Linked DNA regions of Homo sapiens: region 1 is linked to region 2. The links come from fine-mapping of genetic effects on gene expression. Tissue or cell type: whole blood. Region 2 holds a variant in brackets; the other region holds the start of a gene. All regions are shown on one strand. Distances are from middle to middle.

What was found. PIP is the estimated chance that this variant, and not a neighbour inherited with it, causes the effect.
Region 1: it holds the start of SUPT6H, and the variant in region 2 is fine-mapped to the expression of SUPT6H in whole blood (TOPMed, PIP above 0.99).

The regions. Positions count from the first base shown.
Region 1 is chr17:28,656,138-28,666,993 of GRCh38, forward strand. It overlaps SUPT6H (SPT6 homolog, histone chaperone and transcription elongation factor), which reads left to right and starts at 6,068. Exons shown (of 37, transcript NM_003170.5): 1 at 6,068-6,205. SDF2 (stromal cell derived factor 2) reads right to left here and starts at 5,769. Exons shown (of 3, transcript NM_006923.4): 1 at 5,589-5,769. The coding sequence starts at 5,739. RefSeq lists enhancers at 5,456-6,655, 6,017-6,086, 6,184-6,858.
Region 2 is chr17:28,898,343-28,909,198 of GRCh38, forward strand. It overlaps DHRS13 (dehydrogenase/reductase 13), which reads right to left and starts at 4,737. Exons shown (of 5, transcript NM_144683.4): 1 at 4,476-4,737; 2 at 4,241-4,359; 3 at 3,151-3,274; 4 at 2,648-2,959; 5 at 1-550. The coding sequence starts at 4,602. The coding sequence ends at 99. It overlaps PHF12 (PHD finger protein 12), which reads right to left. Exons shown (of 15, transcript NM_001033561.2): 12 at 10,441-10,539; 13 at 9,248-9,330; 14 at 8,514-8,652; 15 at 6,908-8,175. The coding sequence ends at 7,841. RefSeq lists silencers at 3,636-3,828, 4,330-4,959, 10,389-10,683 and an enhancer at 7,504-8,004. The variant T/G (reference allele first, on the strand shown) is at 5,180.

The DNA of each region.
Region 1 (10,856 bases), 240 kb before region 2:
CAACATTAAAATATTTATAAAAAATACAAATCATACTGGGCGTGGTGGCTCACGCTTGTAATCCCAGCACTCTGGGAGTGAAACTTGACCTCCCAAAGTGCTGGGATTGATGGTGAGCCACTGTGCCCAGCCTTTTTCTTCTTTTAAATAAAAAAAAAATTTTTTAGGCTGGGTGTGGTGGCTCACACCTGTAATCCTAGCACTTTTTGGGAGGCTGAGGCAGTTGGATTGCTTGAGCCCAGGAATTCAAGACCAGCCTGGGCAACATGGCAAAAACCCATCTTTACTAAAAATACAAAAATTAGCTGGGTGTGGTGGTGGCAGCCTGTAATCCCAGCTATCTGGGAGGCTGAGGTGGGAGAATCGCTTGAACCCGGGAGGTGGAGGTTGCAATGAGCCAAGATCGCGCCACTGCCCTCCAGCCTGGATGACAGAGCCAGACTCCGTCTCAAAAAAAATAAATAAATAAACTGTGTCCACGTAATACTAGTTACTATATGATAAAGTATACTTAAGGGTATGTCATATCAGAAAATTCTAAGAATTTGCATCAAAGGATATCCAAGGCACAAATCTATGTGAGTTTTTTGAGGCACAGGCAGTGGTAACCTATACACACTAGCCTGGATAGCCCCTAATGTGTCTAATCACATAATTTTAACATGTTTGTAATATTATTCATGTTCATTAACTATTATGATAAAAATTTTTGTATTTCACAATTAAAATGAGACTATGTTGCCAACTTTAAGCAGCCATTACAGCTCCCAACTCCCATAAGTGGTCAATTATTATAAACGTATTATTTAAGCAAGGCACGGTGGCTCACGCCTGTAATCCCAGCACTTTGGGAGGCTGAGGCAGGCAGAACACAAAGTCATGAGTTCGAGACCAGCCTGGCCAATATGGTGAAACCCCGTCTCTACTAAAAATATAAAAATTAGCTGGGCGTGGTCGCATGTGCCTGTAATCCCAGCTACTTGGGAGGCTGAGGCAGAAGAATTGCTTGCATCCGGGAGGCGGAGGTTGCAGTGAGCCGAGATCACACCACCGCACTCCAGCCTAGGTGGCAGGGCAAGACTCTGTCTCAAAACAAAAACAAAAACAAAACAAAAAATGTATCCTTGGAGGTCTGGCACAGTGGCTCATGCCTGTAATCCAAGCGCTTTGGGAAGGTGAGGGGAGGATCCCTTGAGTCCAGGAGTTCGAGACTAGCCTCAGCAACATAGCAAAATGCAGTCTCTAAACGTACATATATATATATGTATTTTTTTTTTTTGATACAGGATCCCTCTTGTCACTCAGGCTGGAGTGCAGTGGCACGATCACAGCTCGCCACAGCCTTGACCTCCCAGGCTCGGGTGATCCTCCTACCTCAGCCTCCCAAGTAGCTGGGATTTCAGGCGCCTGCCACCACACCTGGCTAATTTTTCTATTTTTTGTAGAGATGGGTTTTTGCCATGTTGCCCAGGCTACTCTCGAATTCCTGGGCTCAAGCAATCCAACTGCCTCAGCCTCCCAAAGTGCTAGGATTACAGATGTGAGCCACCACACCCAGCCTAAAAAAAAATTTTTATATTTAAAAGAAAAAAAAGAAGCTGGGCACAGTGGCTCACCGTCAATCCCAGCACTTTGGGAGGTCAAGGTGGGCAGATCGCTTGAGCCCAGGAATTCAAGACCAAGCCTAAGCAACTGACAAAACTCCATCTCTACAAAAGATGCAAAAAATTAATCAGGTGTGGTGGGGTGCACTTGTAGTCCCAGCTACTCAGGACGCTGAGATGTGAGGATTGCTTGAGCCCAGGAGGTCAAGGCTGCAATGAGTCGTAATTGTGTCACTGCCAGTTACACGGGTAAATGTAGCCAACTATCAGCTCCTTTCATGACTTTATTATATCTTTTTTCAGAAAAGGCAAACCAAGTCTCCCTTCCTACTTCTGGTTACTGCCTTACAGCTCTCTGGGTCCTCACAGCCACGCTTCACTAAACCATGGTCTACATTTTGTCTCCTACATTTTCTGCTTTCTATTCAACCGTTCACTTCTTCCTCCAAATCCTTATACCTTGGGATTATCCAAAGTTCTATGCCTGGCCTTCATCTGTTTCTACCTGTAGTTTTTTTTTTTTTTTTTAGTATTTATTGTTCATTCTTGGGTGTTTCTCGGAGAGGGGGATGTGGCAGGGTCACAGGATAATAGTGGAGAGAAGGTCAGCAGATAAACATGTGAACAAAGGTCTCTGGTTTTCCTAGGCAGAGGTCCCTGCGGCCTTCCGCAGTGTTTGTGTCCCTGGGTACTTGAGATTAGGGAGTGGTGATGACTCTTAACGAGCATGCTGCCTTCAAGTATCTGTTTAACAAAGCACATCTTGCACCACCCTTAATCCATTTAACCCTGAGTTGACACAGCACACGTTTCAGAGAGCACGGGGTTGGGGGTAAGGTTATAGATTAACAGCATCCCAAAGCTGAAGAATTTTTCTTAGTACAGAACAAAATGGAGTCTCCTATGTCTACTTCTTTCTACACAGACACAGTAACAATCTGATCTCTCTTTCTTTTCCCCACATTTCCCCCTTTTCTTTTCGACAAAACCGCCATCGTCATCATGGCCCATTCTCGATGGTCGCTGTCTCTTCGGTGCTGTTGGGTACACCTGCAGAAAGGCTGTCACTTCACACTTGGAAGACTGCACAGCGGCCAGGCAGAGGCGCTCCTCACTTCCCAGACGGGGCGGCCGGGCAGAGGCACTCCTCACTTCCCAGACAGGGTGGCCGGGCAGAGGAGCTCCTCACTTAACAGACTGGGTGGCCGGGCAGAGGCGCTCCTCACATCCCAGACGATGGGAGGCCGGACAGAGGCGCTCCTCCCCTCCCAGACGGGGCGGCCGTGCAGAGGCGCTCCTCACTTCCTAGATGGGACAGCCAGGCAGAGGTGCTCCTCAACTCCCAGACGAAGGGCGGCCGGGCAGAGGCGCTCCTCACATCCCAGACAATGGGCGGCCGGGCAGAGGCGCTCCTCACTTCCCAGACAGGGTGGCGGCCGGGCAGAGGCGCTCCTCACATCCCAGACGGGGTGGCGGCCAGGCAGAGGCGCTCCCCACTTCCCAGACGGGGCGGCTGGGCAGAGGCGCTCCCCACTTCCCAGACGGGGCAGCCGGGCAGAGGCGCTCCCCACTTCCCAGACAGGGCGGCCGGGCAGAGGCGCTCCCCACTTCCCAGACGGGGCAGCCGGGCAGAGGCGCTCCCCACTTCCCAGATGGGGTGGCGGCCGGGCAGAGGCGCTCCTCACATCCCAGACAGGGCGGCCAGGTGCTCCCCACTTCCCAGATGGGGTGGCCGGGCAGAGGTGCTCCTCACCTCCCAGATAATGGGCAGCCCACTTCCCAGATGGGGTGGCAGCCGGGCAAAGGCACTCCTCACATCCCAGATGGCGCGGCCGGGCAGAGGCGCTCCTCACTTCCCAGACGGGGCGGCCAGGCAGAGGCGCTCCTCACTTCCTAGACAGGGCGGCCAGGCAGAGACGCTCCTCACATCCCAGACAGGGTGATGGCCGGGCAGAGGTGCTCCTCACTTCCCAGACGGGGTGGCGGCCGGGCAGAGGCCCTCCTCATATCCCAGACGGGGCGGCCAGGCAGAGGCGCTCCTCACATCCCAGACGATGGGCGGCCAGGCAGAGACGCTCCTCACTTCCTAGACGGGGTGGCGGCCGGGCAGAGGCTGTACTCTTAGCACTTTGGGAGGCCAAGGCAGGCGGCTGGGAGGTGGAAGTTGTAGTGAGCCAAGATCACACCACTGCACTCCAGCCTGGGCAACACTGAGCACTGAGTGAGCAAGACTCCATCTGCAATCCCAGCACCTCGGGAGGCTGAGGCAGGCAGATCACTCGAGGTCAGGAGCTGGAGACCAGCCCAGCCAACACGGCGAAACCCCGTCTCCACCAAAAATACGAAAACCAGTCAGGCATGGCGGCGTGTGCCTGCAATCCCAGGCACTCGGCAGGCCGTGGCAGGAGAATCACGGGAGCCCCAGGCAGGGAGGTTGCAGCGAGCCGAGATCACGGCAGTACAGTCCAGCCTCGGCAACAGAGGGAGACCGTGGAAAGAGAGAAGAGACAAGAGAGGGAGACGGAGAGGGCTACCTGTAGTTCTTAAACAATTGTTGAGGGTCAGGACAAAAGCATTTGTATTTTTAACAAGTTTCTCCAGTTATTCAAATTAATCCCAGATAGAGAATCACAGTTCATTCTGGGCAATTTCATCTACAACCCTGACATCTTCAACCACAGTCTGTACAAGATGTTATATTTAATGTTGTATCTCAGGCTCAGCACAGATCCCTTTTCTGAGCTCCGGACTGAACCTGGTTCCCAAATCTGGCTGTCCATCAGAACCACCTGAAGAGCTTTTTAAACCTACAGATTGCTACTGCCAAGCCTCTGTCCACCTCCACTCTAATTCAGTAGATCCAAAGTAGGAAACCAAAACAAAGTAAAAAATAAGCCTGACAACATGGTAGGTGTTCACTGAATGGGTGCTAGAATTATTAAGACATCGCAGTGATGATAACTCATGTCCTTGCCTAGTCTGACTGATCAGATGGGTTTTGGGAATCATGAACCAGACTAGCCCACCTGACAGAACTCTTTCCTCCCTCAGCAAACAGCATCATCAGTCATTCAAGACAAAAATCTACCAGCTATCTTAGATGCCTCTCACATCTCACTAGCTGACCTTCATTCTTTTTTTTTAACTTTATCTTTTTTTTTCAGGCAGATAAGACTTTCTTTTTTTAGTCTGTTTTTATTATATTGTAATTTTCTTGACTGATTATCACCACCGAATCTCCTGTATGTAGTACAATTCTAGCCATGTAGTAGGAACTCATTAAGACCTATGCTGAATGAATCCACAAATAATTTATTACTAAACATTTTAATTTCAAACGCTAAAAAAAAAAAAAAAAAAAAGCAGTTTTCTCTGCAATTCCTGTCACTGCTCCAAGTTTCTTACAAGAAGGAGGTTAAGGTTTGGGTAGAAGGGGGCCAAAGATGGAAACTGAGGAGCAAGTGTAAGATGCAGAAGAGCTGGAAGACAAAGGGTTGTAGTCAACGAGTGAGCTCTTGGAGTTTAAAGTTTCACAGACAGTACTTACTGTAACTTTAAAATTTCAGACACAGCACTTACTGTAATTTTCTTGTCTCTAAAGCAGGCTTTGAACCTGGATAGATTTGGATAGAACCCCGACTTTGTCATTTGCTAACTGCAAGGCTTTGAATAAACGATTTAATTTCTCTGCGTCTGTTTCCTCATCTGTGAAATGAGGATAACAATACTGTCCACCTTACAACAATGTTAATAATCGGAAAAAGGACATAGGTAACGTGCCTGGCCTGTAGCTCACCAAATATTAGGTGGTGTTGCGATTAAGATGCCTTAGAACAATTCAGTTCTCCGACTCTCTAGACCTGAGGAACCTTCCCAGGGAACCCCTAACTTTCCCAGACCACACTGTCAGATATTCTATAGGCCCCGCCCCTCCAGAGCCTCCGAGTCCTCCCTAGCCCACCCGAGCCCGGTCCCCAGCATTACCTGACCCATAGCGCACGTCGTGTGAGTGCAGTCGGACGTTGTGGCGCGTATTGAGTAGCTTCACCACGGAGCCGCAAGTAACGACACCCAGGCTGGACGCTCCCACAGCGCTCCACAAACCCCCCAACAACAGCAGAGGTACTACAGCCATCCTAACTGTATCGCGGAGCCCCAAATCTTCGAAGAAAACTCGGCCCCTCCCCGGAACCGGAAGCTAATGGCGAAACCACGGAGAGAAGGAAGTGAAGAAGCCCGAGTCTGATCTTTATGGTTTATTTGACTAGAGCGGCCTGAGAAACCGGCTGAGCCTGGTTACTTACGATACTCTCGCTCTGTTCCAGGGGCTCAGTGACAGCTGCCTTCCTGAGCCGCTTCGGTTACCTTTCGCACCCACGAGACGAAAGCTTCCGAGAGCGGGAGAGAGAACAAGAAATGGCCCGCCCACTCCCGGTGACAGGGAGCCGGAAATGACGTAGCACGTTGACGCAGCAGCGGCGGCGGTGGCGGCGGAGGGGCCGTGCGGTGGGTCCGTACTATCTTTTCCCAGTCTCGGTTCGACGACTCCATTTTCCTCGGTGGGGGCTTAGCGCACTGGAGGAGCGGCGGGCTTCAGACAGGTAAAGTTCCGACTGGAGAGCGTGTTTCTCGCAGGAGTCAGGTGGGGAACCGGGCTCCTAGGGCCTGGTCACGTAAGGGAAGAGGCAGTGGGGAGCCGTATGCGGGAAGAAGGGGGAGCCTGGCCTTCCCTGCTCTATGGGGGGAAGGGGGAGGAAAGCGCTGTAGTTGCTCAGAGTCCGAAAGCTTTTCCCAGCCCAGTGACACCCGGAACCCGTGAATCGGGTGGCACGTTGAATCAACAGGCTTCCTGGCATCCCGTCCTTCTCTCCGCAGGTTTTTAAAACTGGGCCACGCAAAAGGATTGGGGATGGAAGGGACCTGGGGCTTCTGAGCCAGGATCAGGTGATCGAGTTGTTTGTTCTGGGGATATGAATCCTGTGGAGCTTTCAGCAGCTCGGCCATCAGGCTAGAGGGCGATGCCAAATTCCAGCTCTTTACATATTGCTGAATAATACAAATAGAACTTTTTGTAGATGGTTGCATCCTTCATCCCTTTCTAAAGATCGAAGGTCTTGTAGAAGTCCTAAAGCCCGTCCATTCTCTATAGATTCATTTCCTCAAACGTTTGCCAGAGGCCTATCATGAACATCAAAATTAGTTATTAAGTCAAAACTCCATCTTCTAGTTTCTACCTTTCTCCTCAGGCACTCCTTTGAACCAGCTGGAGAAGTTAATTTTCCTGGGTTGTTGCAAGAACTGATACTTATTTCAGAGGGCTAAGATCTCTGAAAATACTTCCGTGGAAATTCACTGTAATATCAAAAGTAACAAGGGTGTATGAAGCTACATCATTAATGAGCATTAGGGAGTGTAAACAATATTGAATTTGATTAATTTCTTCGGAAAAATGTCTGGTTCCACTGTTTATCTGGAAGTTACCAGTTTGTAAGTCTTCAGTGTTTTGATTACAGAAACATAACTGCTCTTCCATCAGCTGTGAATTTAGAGCCCTTTTTTACGAGTAATGTCCCTTTCACCAGTACAAGTACATTTTTATTCACTTGGCTTGTGTGGCTGCTAGATTGGATTAGCATAGCCTTGCAACTCTAGGAGGTTTTAACTTCATCAGGAGATTAATTACATCAGAAAGTGGTACCGTCTGGAGAGGCTTAGTCAAATTTTACAGTTCTTCCTCTGAAAGCCTACCTAGTGTGGTGGAAACATGATCTTTGTAGGCAAATACGTTTGCCCTGATTCTATATTCTTGACCTTAATAAATGGCACTACCATCAGTCCTGCCTGTAATCCTTGTCTTCCTTCCTGTCCACTATTTCCCAATAAAATCAGTCACCAAATCCTGTCTCTCCCTGAAACTGTTCCCATCAGCATACAAATTATGTTCTGGTATCCTTCACATCCCTCTCCAATTACCATGCCAATTTTTTAAATTTCCATTCATAGATTTCTACCTGTACCAACTCAGCTTTCTCAACTTTCATTCACTCTTCATTTTATACCAATCTGGCTTCTCTTCTGCCCACTCCATTTTTTTTTTTTTTTTTGTGGAGACAGGGTCTTGCTCTGTTGCCCAGGTTGGAGTGCAGTGGCCCCATCATAGCTCACTGCCACCTGGAACTCCTGAGCTCAAGCAGTCCTCCTGAGGCAGCTTCTAGTAATCAAGTGCCACCACATCTACTTTGCCCACTCCATTGAAGTTGCTCTTATCAAGGTCACCAGTGACTTCTATGTTGCCAAATCCAATGGATACTTTGTTCTCATATTCCTCTGTCTCTGCAATATTCAACATAGTTACTCCTGCCTCCAAACTTTCATCTTGGCTTTATTGACATTTCACTCTTGGATTTTCTCCATTTCTCCGGCTGTTCCTTCTGAGTCTCATTTGCTAGCAACTTTTGCTCTCTATCTAATGTCTAAATGCTGGGGCTGGTCGCAGTGGCTCATGCCTATAATCCCAGCACTTTGGGAGGTCGAGGTGGGCAGATCACTTGAGGTCAGGAGTTCACAACCAGCCTGGCCAGCATGGTGAAACCCCATCTCTACTAAAAATACAAAAACTAGCCGGGCGTGGCGACACGCCTGTAATCCCAGCTACTTGGGAGGCTGAGGCAGGAGAATCACTTGAACCAGGGAGGCAGAGGTGCAGTGAGCAGAGATCATGCCACTGCACTCCAGCATGGGCAACAGAACAAAACTCCGTCTCAAAATATATGTATATCTACATATGTTGGAATTCTCACAGGAATCCCGAGCCTTCTACATGCTTCCCTTTAGGTAACCCAGCCCCATGGCTTTAATTACCACCTGAAAGTTGGCAACTCCAAAGTTTAAATCTCTAGTCCAGCCCTCTCCTCTATGTTGCAGAATCACGCGTCAAAAATGCCTGTTTAATTATCTCCATTTGGATATTTCTTAGGCACCCAAAGCTAACATAACCAAAAGAAAGTTTTGGTTTTCTCATCATTGCAAACCTTATCCTCCCGTTTCACTGAGTGGTGCTCCTATCCGCAGGGTTACCAAAGATAGACCTCTGAGAATCATCTTTGTTCTTCTCCTTTACTACTCCTCTTCCCCAGTCTTTCAGTAAGTCTTGTCACTTCCACTTGCAGAATGTTTTTGTAATCTGTCTTCTATTCTCCATCTTCACTTTTACCACCTTATTCCAAGCCACCACCATCTTTTGCCTGGGCTACCACAACAGTATCTTCAGTTTTCCCTGGTTTCCACTCAGATCTTCCTCCAGTTCATTTTCCATGTAACAGAATTGGATCAGGGCAGATCATGTCATTTCCCTACTTAAAACTCTCCAGTGACTTTCCATGGCCTTTACGCCCTGCTTGAGCATACCTCTCCCTCATAGGCTGCTGCCTTCACCATGCTCTAGTGCCATCAGCCTCAGGACATCACCTATTATATACCATGTTCTTGCCCACTTTCTCTACTGGAACCTCTCCTCCTACTTCTACAGGTCATATCCTACCTATTGACATCTCAGCCTAAGTAAACTCACTTTAGATGAGATGAGAATATGCATTTCCTTCTTCGCTTTTAGAGCAAGGTTTATTTTATTTGTTGCCAATATGTCTCCTGCACCAGAATACGGGCATCCTAGGGGCATGGACCTAGTCTTGTACGTGCCTGGCATGTGGTAGGCACTCATTAAATACATATTTATGCCAGGCATGGTGGTTCACGCCTATAATCCCAACACTTTGGGAGGCTGAGGCAGGCGGATCACCTGAGGTCAGGAGCTCGAGCCCAGGCTGGCCAACATGGTGAAACCCCGTCTCTGTTAAAGATACAAAGAAAAAATTAGCTGGACGTGGTGGTGGGTGCCTGTAATCCCAGCTACTTGGGAGGCTGAGGCAGGAGAATTGCTTGAACCTGGGAGGCGGAGGTTGCAGTGAGCTGAGATCGTGCCACTACACTCCAAGCCTGGGCAATGGAGCGAGACTCTGTCTCAAAAAAACGTATATGTATATGTATATGTATTTGTCCTAGCTACCTGGGAGGCTGAGGTGAGATTATGGCTTGAGCCCAGGAGGTGGAGGCTGCAGTGAGATGTAATCACACCACTGCACTCCAGTCTGGGTGACAGAGCAGGACCCCATCTCAGAAAATAATAAGTTTTTGTTGGATTAGCAAGTAGATTAAGTTCAGTTCTACATTTAAAACCCTGCAATGGCTTCCCAGTGCCTAGATCCTTATGACTTCTCCAACCCTTATGAACCATTCTTCCTCTCCTGGGCCTTCTCTGTACCTGCCACAGTACACGTGTTGTGCTAGAAGCACACGTCTCTGACATCACTCCCCAAACCATCTCCAAAGAAGCCAGCTCCTCTGCTGAACTAATTCCTCCTTACTCTTAAGGTCTTTGTTTAAAGTCACTTCCTCAAAACCAGGTTAGGTTGTCTTATTACAGGATCCCATGCTATTCTTATCATCAATTCTCTAAATCAGGGGTCACAAACTAAGGCCTGTGAGCCAAATAAGGTCACCCCCATTCATTTACATGTTATGTATGCTGTGCTACAGTGGCAGATTTGGCCCTATAGAGAAAAGGAAAGGTTTGCCAACCCCTGTGCTAGAGCAGGAACTATGCGCTCCTCAATGTGTGTACCACAAGGTTCAGTAACTGTTAATCTCTCTTTGTGTTGCAGGGGTTCTGAATCTGGTTACATATTTCAGTTGTACTCTTCTTTAGCCCTTACCCTGTTTCTCTAAAGAAATGTGGAAAGAAAAGGAATACTTTTTTTTTTTTTTTTTTTGAGACGGAGTCTCGCTCTGTCACCTTGGCTGGAGTGCAATGGCATGATCTCGACTCACTGCAAGCTCTGACTCCCACGTTCAAGCGATTCTCCTGCCTCAGCCTCCTGAGTAGCTGGGATTACAGGCGTGCACCACCACACCCGGCTAATTTTTGTATTTTTAGTGGAGACAGGGTTTCATCATGCTGGCCAGGCTGGTCTCGAGCGTCTGACCTGACCTGAAGTGATCAGCCTGCCTCAGCCTCCCAAAGTGCTGGCATTATAGGCGTGAGCCACCGCGCCCAGCCGAATAAATAATATTTTTAAATGAACAAAATTAACTTTTTCTGTATTTTAACATCTTGACTTCATGTAATTAGGTTTTCAGGGTTTTTTTAATTACAAAGCCTTCTGAATTCCAGATTTAAAAGGACTTAAGTAGACT
Region 2 (10,856 bases):
CAAGATCACAAACCCGTCAGTGTCCAGGGCATGGCCTCGCACACATCCGAGGTTTTCAAGGACCATGAAGTGCCATGGCAAGCATCCTGGCCTGAGGGTTAGGAGAGCTGGATCTCAGGCTCAACTTTAGCCTGAATTCGGTGCGTCATCTTAGACAAATCTGGTGAGCTCTGAGGGCTGGGGTAAGGTTGAGAAACTGTGGGCTCCTCAGGGTGGGGGGTGCTTAGAGAAGATGGGGCCTCTGAGTCCTCAGACTGGGGGTCTTCATCGGGTTCAGCATCCTCCCCAGGCCCAAGCCCTGCCAGCCTCTTGCTGGCCTCCCATAGCCGATGGGCTGCCCGGTCGTCTCGGGCAGCTGGAGGCACCTCTTCCACATGGCAGTTGGCAAAATATCTCCCACTGAGGGGCTCGATGCCCTCTTGTAGAGCACAATACAGGGGTGTCTGGGCACCCCCTCTTGGTGCCCGGAGCACCAGCCAAGCCAATGGGCGCAAAAGTGGGCGCAGCCATCCAGGAACATGGCGCAGGAACAGCTCCGAGTTCACAGGCCCTGTAGGCAGGAAGAAAGAAAGGAGTCGGGCTAGGCACAGTGGTGTGTATTTACAGTCACAGCTACTCGGGAGGCGGAGCAGGAGGATCACTTGAGCCCAGGAGTTTGAGACCAGACTGGGCAACATAGTCAAGCTCTGTCTCTTTAAAAAAAAAAACAACAACAAAAAAAATAGAACAGAGCTAGAAGAACAGGGACAGAATCTGGTTTCAAGGGAACCAGGATAGTATTTACCAGGCATTCGGGGCTTCTGCGAGGTGACTTCACTCATTTCCTGCATGAAGCCTCTTCGCTTCCATCCAGACTGCTTGTTCACCCCACATCCCAGATTTTGTTCATGCTGTGTCCCATGTCTGAAACAATTCTCAGTCTCTCTCCATCTTTTCTTCTAGCTCAAGTCCTGTTCCTTGTTTAACCAGCATTTATTAAGTACTTGCAGTATACCAGCCACTATTTTGGACATTAGTGATATGGAGTGTAATAAAGACTTAATAAAGGCTAATTGTGATCATCGCTATTATAATTACTAATGAGCCTTAGGCAGTGACTATCTAAAATGCAGTATGGTAATATGAATATGACAGATCTTGTTATCCTGGTATAACCTCTTCCATAAGACAAAGTGTTGCTCTGGATCCCCAATTATCTCACTCAGAGTAAAAGCCAGAATGCCTATAGTGAACCTCCCTCCAAACCCTACAGGACACAGTGCCTCTCTATGACCTCACCTCTTGCCACTCTCCCCCCTCACTCTGTTCCAGCCACATTAGCCTTTCTCAAGCACACCAGGAACTTCTGCCTTAGGGCCTCTGCACTTACTTTTTTCTGTTTTGGAGACAGAGTCTCGCTCTGTCACCCAGGCTGGAGTACAGTGGCGAGATCTCAGCTTACTGGCAACGTCCACCTCTAGGTTCAGGCGATTCTCCTGCCTCAGCCTCCTGAATAGCTGGGACTACAGGTGATAGCCACAATGCCTAGCTAATTTTTGTATTTGTAGTAGAGACAGGTTTTCTTTTTTTTTTCTTTTTTCTTTTTTTTTGAGATGGAGTCTTGCTCTGTCCCCCAGGCTGGAGTGCGGTGGCGTGATCACGGCTCACTGCAACCTCCACCTCCCGGATTAAAGCGATTCTCCTGCCTCAGCCTCCTGAGTAGCTGGGATTACAGGCGCGCGCCACCACACCTGGCTAATTTTTGTATTTTTAGTACAGATGGGGTTTCACCATGTTGGTCAGGCTGGTCTCGAACTCCTGACCTTGTGATTGCCCGCCTCGGCCTCCCAAAATGCTGGGATTACAGGTGTGAGCCACCACGCCCAGCCTAGAGATGGGGTTTCACCATGTTGCCCAGGTTGGTCTCGAACTCCTGACCTCAAGTGATCTACCAGCCTTGGCCTCCCAAAGTGCTGGGATTACAGGCATGAGCCACCGCTTCCAGCCCCTCTGCACTTATTATTTGCACTGTTCTCTCTTTTTCTGGGCATCTCCCCAGTGAGCCATGTATCTTTCAGACCTCTGTTCAAATGTCACCTTTATAGATATGTCTTCCTTGACTGCCACACCATATTCCCGTTCCATTTGCCCCTTGCTGTTTCCTTTTTCCTCAGAGCACTCTATCACCACCCCTCATCGTATATATTTATTGGCTGTCTCCCTCTCCTCCAAACTAGAATGCAAACTCTATGAGGGCAGGGTCTTTGTTTTGTTCACTGCTATATCCCCAGCACTGCAAGTAATGCCTGATACAGAGTAGGTACTCGGTAAATGCTTCTTGGATGAATTATTAGCTATCATCATCATCATTATCAGTTCAGTCAGTGCAGATGGCTCCTGGGGGTGGGAATCCAGGTCTTATTCATGGCCATATACCCCCCAGGGCTGAGGACCCAGGCTTGTGGTGTGAGAGGAAGAACCTAAACCAGGAGAACCTGGTTCCAAGAGCAGCAAGGAACAGGTCTCTCCTTGGACTATGCTTCCTTGCTGCCCTGAGATTCTGTGACTCAATGAGGGATGGAGGGTGGGGAGGCGGTAGTGGTGTGGGGGGCACAGGATGGGGCAAGGAAAGGAGAGGGGAATCGGAAGCCAAAGAACCAGACCTCACCTGGGTGGGCTGCATAGCAGGTGACGCCAGTGGCCTCAAGCTGGTTGGCGAGCTCCCGGGCAAACAGTACATTAGCCAGCTTAGTGTCAGCATATGCCCGCAGCTCCTGCCGCCAGCCCACCACTGGGCGGTCCAGGCGTTTGAAGTCAAGACGTCCCCGACAGTGGGCAGCTGAGGCTACCACCACCACGCGGCTAGGGGCACATGCCTTCAGGCAAGGCAGCAGCAGATGTGTCAGCAGAAAGGGACCGATATGGTTCACCCGAAGCAGCAGGTTAAACGCCTCACGGGTCCGGCCACAGGAACTGATACCTGGGGCAGAGGCTAAATGTGAGCGGCTGCTCCAGAAGGAGCTCTGCAGCCTTGGCATCCCTATCTATGAGATGGGAGAAGGGGGCATCCTTCCCATGTGTCCACTGGCCCCAGCAGGGCCCCCGCTGGAGGGGGCAGTTGCCCCTGGCCACCCGCCACCCCACCCCCACGCAGGGCCTGCTGCCCCTCACCGGCATTGTGGATGAGGATGTCCAACCGTGGCTCAGAGCTCAGAAAGGCAGTGGCAAAGGCCCGCACCGAGGCCAGACTGGCCAAGTCCAAGGCCATGAAGATGACCTCATTGTTCCCACTCTCCTGTGGAGAGGCAAGGGCTGGGCTTGTCACCAGGCATCTCTCTCCTCTTCCCTCTCCCCAGGCACCAAATTCTGAGAGTCCATCTCCTACTGTTTACTAAAATCTGCCCCTGTGTCTTAGAGTGTACTAGATAAGTGTGTGGATTCAAATCCTGACTTTGCCTTTTACTAAAGTGTGACCTTGGGCAAGATACTTAATCTCTCTGGGTCTCAGTTCTCTCACTGCGTAAAGGGAATAATAATAACAACAGTCCCAATCTCACTGAGCTTTTGTGAGGATGAAAGGAGTTAACGTGTAAAATACACTCTAGCAGCACTGGGTAGGTACTTGCTATTATTATTATCACCTCCTTTCCCCATTACCATTTACCCTAAAATCTGTAACTTCTCACTGGTCTCCTCTCTCCCGCTCTTGCCCCCCCACTCCAGGCACCACGCAGCCACAAAGGAGTTCCTTCCAAAGGCTATTCTGACAGTCCGGAGCCTACTGAGGGCTGTTCATGGTCTCCACTGGTCTCTGCTGCCCAATCTATAAAATCCAAGCTTCTCAATAGGCTCTAGAATGTTCTCCAGCCCCCTCATTTGCCCATCTTCCTCATACTTTGTGCTCCAGCCTCATTAAATCTTTTTCTCAGTTTTTCAGATCAGTCCAGCTCTCTTTGCCTCAGAGCCTTTGCTTATGCTGTGCCCTCTGCTGTTCCCTTTCCTACTGATCATTAACCCAACTTCTACTGATGCTTAAACGTCTCAGAACTGCAATTACGGCCTTCAGGAAGCCCCTCCCCCACTCGGCTCTGGTGCGCCTTCCTCGGGTGACCCCAGCGCTCCGTGCACTCCCTCTTCGCGCTCAGCCGCCCGCGCCGCGCTCTCCTCCCTGGACCCGGATCCTCCGCAGCCCCTTTGCTGGCTTCTCTGTGTCCCGGCGGGTTCTCGGCTCACCGTCCCACGCGCCCCCGCTGCCTCTCACCTGGCGGAGGTCGAAGGCAGCCGCCTCCCCGCGCTCCTGGCTGCGGCAGGCCAGCACCACGCGCGCTCCCCGGCGCGCCAGCTCCAGCGCCGTCATCTTTCCGATGCCGCTGTTGGCGCCTGCGGACCGCGGGCGGGAGCCGAGCTGAGCTGAGCCCGGCGGGCCGCTGCTACCGCCGGCCCGGCCTCCTCTCCGCGCGCCCCGCCAGCTCGCACTCACCCGCCTCCGCACTCACCCGTGACCACGGCCGTGCGGCCCCGCAGGTTGCCCATGCCGCCGCACGGCGGGGCCTTCACCAGGTTGTAGTAGACAAGCACGTAAGCGCCCAGCAGCAACCCCGCGCCCAGCAGCAGCGCCTCCATGCCGGCCGCGCCTCCCGGCTCCCGCCCAGGCCCCGCACCGCCCTGGATCGCCGCCAGGCGGCTGCCGATCCGCCCTGCACAGGCCTGGAACGGCGCCCGGGCGCGTCAGCCTCCGAAGGCGGAGGCGGGCAGGAGGCTGGGCAGGGGCGTGTGCGCGTGCGGGTGCGCGCCGGCCCTGCGAGCGCCCCCTAGGCGTGCGTCGGCGTCCTGGGGGCGTGTGCCTCTGTGGACACCTTTGAGGTGAGTGTGTGCGCTTGGGCCCTGGGAGCGCCCCCTAGGTGTGTGCCTGTGTGAACTCCTGGGTGTGTGTGTCCACGTACACCCTGTGAGTGCACGCTAGGTATGTGCATGCATCTGCAACGCTTGTATGTGAATGATCTCTAGGTGTGTATGTGCCCATGTCCCTGAGGATCACCCTTTGGGTTGTGTGCGTGCCTCTGGATCCTGTGTGTGAGCTCCTGTAAGCACCTTGTAGGTGTTTGTGTGCATTCTGGCAGAGTCCCTCCAGGTATGTGCCTGCATCTGTAGTCTCTGCCAGTGCATGTGCTTGCATATCTCCATATGTTTACTCGAGGTG[T/G]ATGTAGCACAGTCCCTCCCTTCTGAAGTTAGGTGTGTACATGAATACACGTGTGTCTTTGAGTCTAGTCCTAGATGCTTTTCCCTCTAAGAACAAATCCTTCTCCTTCCTTCCCTTCTGCACAAATCCTTCTCCTTTCCTTCCTTTCCTTTCCTTCCTTCCTTCCTTCCTTCCTTCCTTCCCTTCCTTCCTTCCTCCCTTCCTTCCTTCCTTCCTTCCCTCCCTCCCTTCCTTCCTTCTTTCCTTTCTTTCTTTCTTTTGAGACGGAGTTTCACTCTCGTTGCCCAGGCTGGAGTGCAGTGGCGTGATCCCGGCTCACTGCAACCTCCGCTTCCCGGGTTCAAGCAATTCTCCTGCCTCAGAATCCAGAGTAGCTGGGATCACAGGTGTGTGACACCACACCCGGCTAATTTTTGTATTTTAGTAGAGAAGGGTTTTCACTATGTTGGCCAGGTTGGTCTCAAACTTCTGACCTTAAGTGACCCACCTGCCTCAGCCTCTCAAAGTGCTGGGATTACAGGTGTGAGCCTCTGCACTGGGCCAAATCCTTCGTTTTCTTATCTTCACATCCAGCCCCCAGCTTCTAGGATTCTTCCGTGTTCTCCCCACACAGGCTAGAGAGGACACTGTTAAAGGTGGCACAGGCAGTTAAGGGGTGTCAGAATTCACTCCTTCATTCCCCCTCTGTATCTCCCTACCTCAACCCCACTAGTGCCTTCCATGGCTGAAGGGAAGCAGGAAGAGATAGAGAGTAAAATCTGTTATTGCCTTTCAGGAGGAAATTTGCCTTTGGAATGGTTCTCATAGGTGATAAGAGACAGGCAGAGAAGCTCCATCACTCAATTACAAGTGACCATGATGGCAGGAAGGGTGGGGCTGGCTAGGAACAAATGGGTAAGACCATTCCAGGGCAGAAGGCCGTTGCCTGATACATTCAGTACAATTTAGAACCTGGTATTTGGCACTTATGGTGTGCCCAGCAGTGTAGTTAGACTTGGAAATTCCGAGTGGAAGATATACAAGTTTCTGTCCTTAGGGAGTTCAAAAAGCCCATTAGGGCACCGGGAGCAGAGTGATGACGCCTGCATGGGCAGATGAAAGTCAGGGACAGACCTCAGATTCCAGGGCCAGTTTCCTATTTAGCTGCACTGCGGATTCGGGTTTCCATTGTAGATGCTGTGGGATGAGGCTGGGGGTAGAATATTCATTTTCTATCCCTAAGGCAAAATCCTGACACACAAGCAGATGCACCTACACAAACAGTGCTGGAATATACACAGAGGTGCTCTCCATCTGAGGAGGCTGACCTCAGGAAAACTTCCTGGAGAGTTTTTCACTAAGATCTGGGAGGAAAGCATGGAATTTGGTTTAATGAAGGTCCCCGGGACTTGAGAATTAAGGTAATGCAGCAGACTCGTTTTTTGATGAGGAATAGCAGTTGTAGAGAAGTGTGACTGCAGATCACATGACTAGAAGTGACAGGTCAAGACTAGATTCCACTATCAGTCAGGGTTCTCTGGAGAAACAGCTCCCCCCGGGCCAGCAGACGCACCCATGTCATTCCATTGTCATCCACCCACCCTGGCTCACTTTTCTCCAACACCTCCCCTACCAAACTTCCCTATGGGAATGAGACCTGTTCAAAAGGCCCCCCACCTGCTAGACCCAGATCTAGGGGAGGGTCTCCTCTAAGGGTGATGACAGGTAGGACAGACAGTCAGAAAACAATTTGAAGTATTTTTGTTTTTTATATACAGAATACAGGAAAGTTTCTGTAAAGTCTAAAACATTACAATTACTATGTACATTGGTACTGGTTGTGGGGGTGGGAGGAGAGGAGGGAACCAGGGGCAGGAGGAAGAGGAGAGAAGTGGCAAGAGAACAAAAAAAGGAGACAAAACAGGTTTACGACAAAAACATTTTTGCTACAATAGACAATTTGAGAAAACGCTCTACCACATGTAGTACTGTACACGGTTTTTAAAAACATTGAAAAAATGTCATCACTAGATGTATTTACACAAAATCCAAATACACTTTTCCTTATTTGAAATAAAATAGATGGACAGCCAGAAAAAGAATTCATTTCTCATTTGTCCATAATACACAGTAGCTACCTGTAGTGCAACCGCTGCAGAAAGGGAAAATAACGTGGAGGGTGGGAACCATGGAAGGAAGGTGGGTAGCGATCTTTATATTAAATAAAACAATGATATTGTATAGATTTTGCTGTATGAAAACTGTATTTTTTCTTTTAATATAAAACTATTGTCACTGCCACAAAATAGAACAAGTTTCTGATTATTTTACAATGGTGGGCGAGGGGGAGGGAGCAGGAGGTGGGTGGGGAAGGGTTTTGTGTTGGAGGAAGTGTCCAGACCCTGGGTCTTTCCCTCCCTGCCCACGCTGTTCCTCAGCTCAGGTCTGCCGCTTTCCCATGAAATGTTGAGTACAAATATATGTGCAAATGCCCCCTAGAACTTGAGAAAAGAAAAAGGATTTTTAAAAAACAGTCAAAAGGTTTTCTTCATTTCATGCAAAGATTGTAGTTGAAGGGTTTCTGGTAGAGTATAGAAAACACCCGGGCTTGGTTTGTGTACATTTTTGCATTGCAGGAGTCTTGGGTGGGTGTACAGGCCAGTGGCGGGGTAGCCGCCAGTCCTAAGGAACAGAGTTGGAGCGCAGCACAGGGCCCTGGTGGGGCTTGAGAGAGAGCTTCTCGGCCAAGACCCCATCCTGCAGCAGGCTGGCATCGCCTTTGGGCTGTTTGGTCGCAAACTCAGTGATGCTGAAGACAAACTGCAGGCAGCCCAGCTTGATGTAGCTGCCATGGTGCAGTAAGGCTGTGCCCTCCCAGCCGGCCCCACTGCCCCCAATCAAGCTCGAGCTGCTGGCTTTGCAATTGCAGGGTCTCCGCTGCGGCCCCTGGGCCTGGGAACTCATCATGGCTGCCTCCTCACTTGGCTCTTCGTCCTGTTTCTGGTGCCGGCGGCGCCCTGGGAAAAAGGGGGATGGTCACAGAAGAGGAACAGTGAGCAGCCAACCCATGTGGGCTGTTTGCCAAGGTTGGGCTCCTGCATCTCCCCATTCCAACTGCTGCATGACTAGGGAGGAAGGATGCTCAGAAAGGGTTGGTGGAGTCTGAAGTCCCCACAGGTGTGTACACACATGGGGGTACTCAGCACTTGCTTCTCTGTGGCCTGCCCTGGGCCCACGAGGAAGTAGAGCTTGGCCAATAGGACTGGGAAGGCAAGAGACAGACCATGGGCAGCAAGTCAGAACCACCCTGACTGGGGCCTCAGCTTTGTGGCCACAGATCTCTGCTCCAACTTACTGATGACACTCTGCACTTTGGCAACAATACTGCTTGGGGGGGTTGGCGGGGTCTTCTCCGAGAAGTCACATGAATACAGCACATTGTCCACCGTTGTCCCATGCTCACTGTAGTTTAACAGCTCATAATGTTTGGTATTCTGAGGAGGAGGAGGGGAGATAAGATGTGTGGTCTGCTGTGTGGGGCCTGGGGCTAAGGGGAGAGAGGACATATGGAGAAGGCCGTGCTACTCTACCTAGAGAGTCCTTACTTGCCTCCCCAGTCATGGCCCCTGTCCTTTCAGAAGGGGGCTGGAGACACCTCCTCAGGGAAGCTTTCCTTCTGGTGTCCCACACTCCCTACTCTCCCACTCCTTCACTCTGCCCTCTCAGCACCGCTCCTCTTGGTATGATACTCACTGGCCCGTGATGATAATGAAATTCACAGGGACACACCCACAAGGCTTGGCTTCCTTCTATGCTGGTCCCCTCCCTTGCTTTAGGGTAGGCTCCCTCTGTTGTGCCTGTGACTAACCTCAGGAAAAATGGTAGCCCTGCTCCTGGGAAGCAGGTAGCTTCCCAGGTAGGATGCTATTTCACATCAAGACTCTCCTCCTCCAGGAATGACAGGGAGGGAAGAAAAAGAGAGGACCCCCAATCCCTCTTCCCTCCCCTCAGGGCACTGAACAAAAACCTACTGCCTGGGAGAGGCCTCAGGTTGGGAAAGCTCCCTCCCACCGCATCTCCGGCCCTCACCTCATCGTAGAATATGCAGGCATGTTTCCCGGACACGTAGTTACAGTGACCATAGTTTGTAAGGCACACATCCATGTCAGCTCCTGCAAGGTGGCAGGAGTAGAGGAAAAGGAAGGCAGAGAACAGATTGTAAGGTGCATGTGTCGGGGAGGTAAGACAGGGAGAGAGTTAGCTTCTGGGTTGGCACTAGCAGAGACTTCAAGGGTGAGTAGCTCAGGGCCCTCCCCTTTTATTTTTGAACAAAAACTGTTGTCTTTTCCAAGCTCCTGATAAAGAACAGCTGTCCCTGCCAGCTGATCTGCTTTAGAACATGTGGCTGCTACCCAGAAGGGAAGAGTGAGCTACTGAAGAGGATGGGATATTTCTATGAAAATACAACATCGGGGTGCAGAGCCTAGAAAATCTTATCACCTTAAAGAAAGGGAAGTTTCTAGGGTAAGGGCTAATCTGTCTGTCCTTCTGTACCAGATACAGAGCTATCGGTCTCTAGGACTTTTAGGGAAAACAAAACAAAACAAAAAACAGATACAGGGCTAACTGAAGATTGGGTATGTGTGAGTCTATCACTCTTTCAAAGACCACCAGGGACAAAGCATCTGCCTTCTCCTTAGGTTCTTCCCTGCAGTGTTTAAAGTGCCTCCCTGGGCAGTAGTCAGAGCTGACTTTCATCTCTGCTGTTGCAACACTGGGCAAAGACAAAGCAAAAGGGCCTGAACAAGGGAAGACAAGGAACTGATTGTCTCTTTTATTTTTGAGACAGGGTCTCACTCTGTTGCCTGGGCTGGAGTGCAGAGGCACAAAAAGGATCACTGCCTGGACCTCCCAGCCTCAGGTGATCTTCCCACCTCAGCCTCCCAAGTAGCTGGGACTATAGGCATGTTAGCCCAGCTAATTTTTTATATTTGTTTTTGGTAGAGATAGGGTTTCACCATGTTGCCCAGGCTGGTCTCGAAGTCCTGGGCTCAAGTGTTCCTCCTGCCTTGTCCTCCCAAAGTGTTGGGATTATAGGCGTGAGCCACCGTGACTGGCTGATTGTCTCTATTCTTAGTTTCTCTTGTCTAGCTATCCACTGATTTAAAGCAGTCAACTCTGGAAAGGGCTTCCCTCACCCCTTTCTAACTTCTGTGGGTAAGGGTGTCAGTCTTTAGGGCTGAACAGATTCAGTGTCTCTCCCAGCTTCCTGGCTGGCTCACCTGTCCCGATGTAGAGGGTTCGATAGCACATGTTCACAGCTCCTCCCAACCCTAAGAGGGGGTAGAACACAGCTCGGGCCTGTACCTCCTTTCTTTGCACTACAAGACAAACATAGGAATAGGATCATTCAGAAACTCAGATCCTGTGATCCAAACATAAACCAACAAAATCTGGACCTTTGGCTCATGGCCTGGAGAAAATCCCGCTGGATGACTCATCTTTCCAAACTCACATCCAACACTGAGCTGCGGCAGGGTAAGGCTTTCTCTCCCCACCCACAGCATTTCCAACACAGGGTACAGAGGACCATCTTTGAAGATGGTCAGAGAAGTCAGAGATGACAGTACTGTGTAAGTTCCTGGGCTCCTGGCTGGCTAATCCGGGATATTCCAGCTGGTACTATAGGGAGAATATG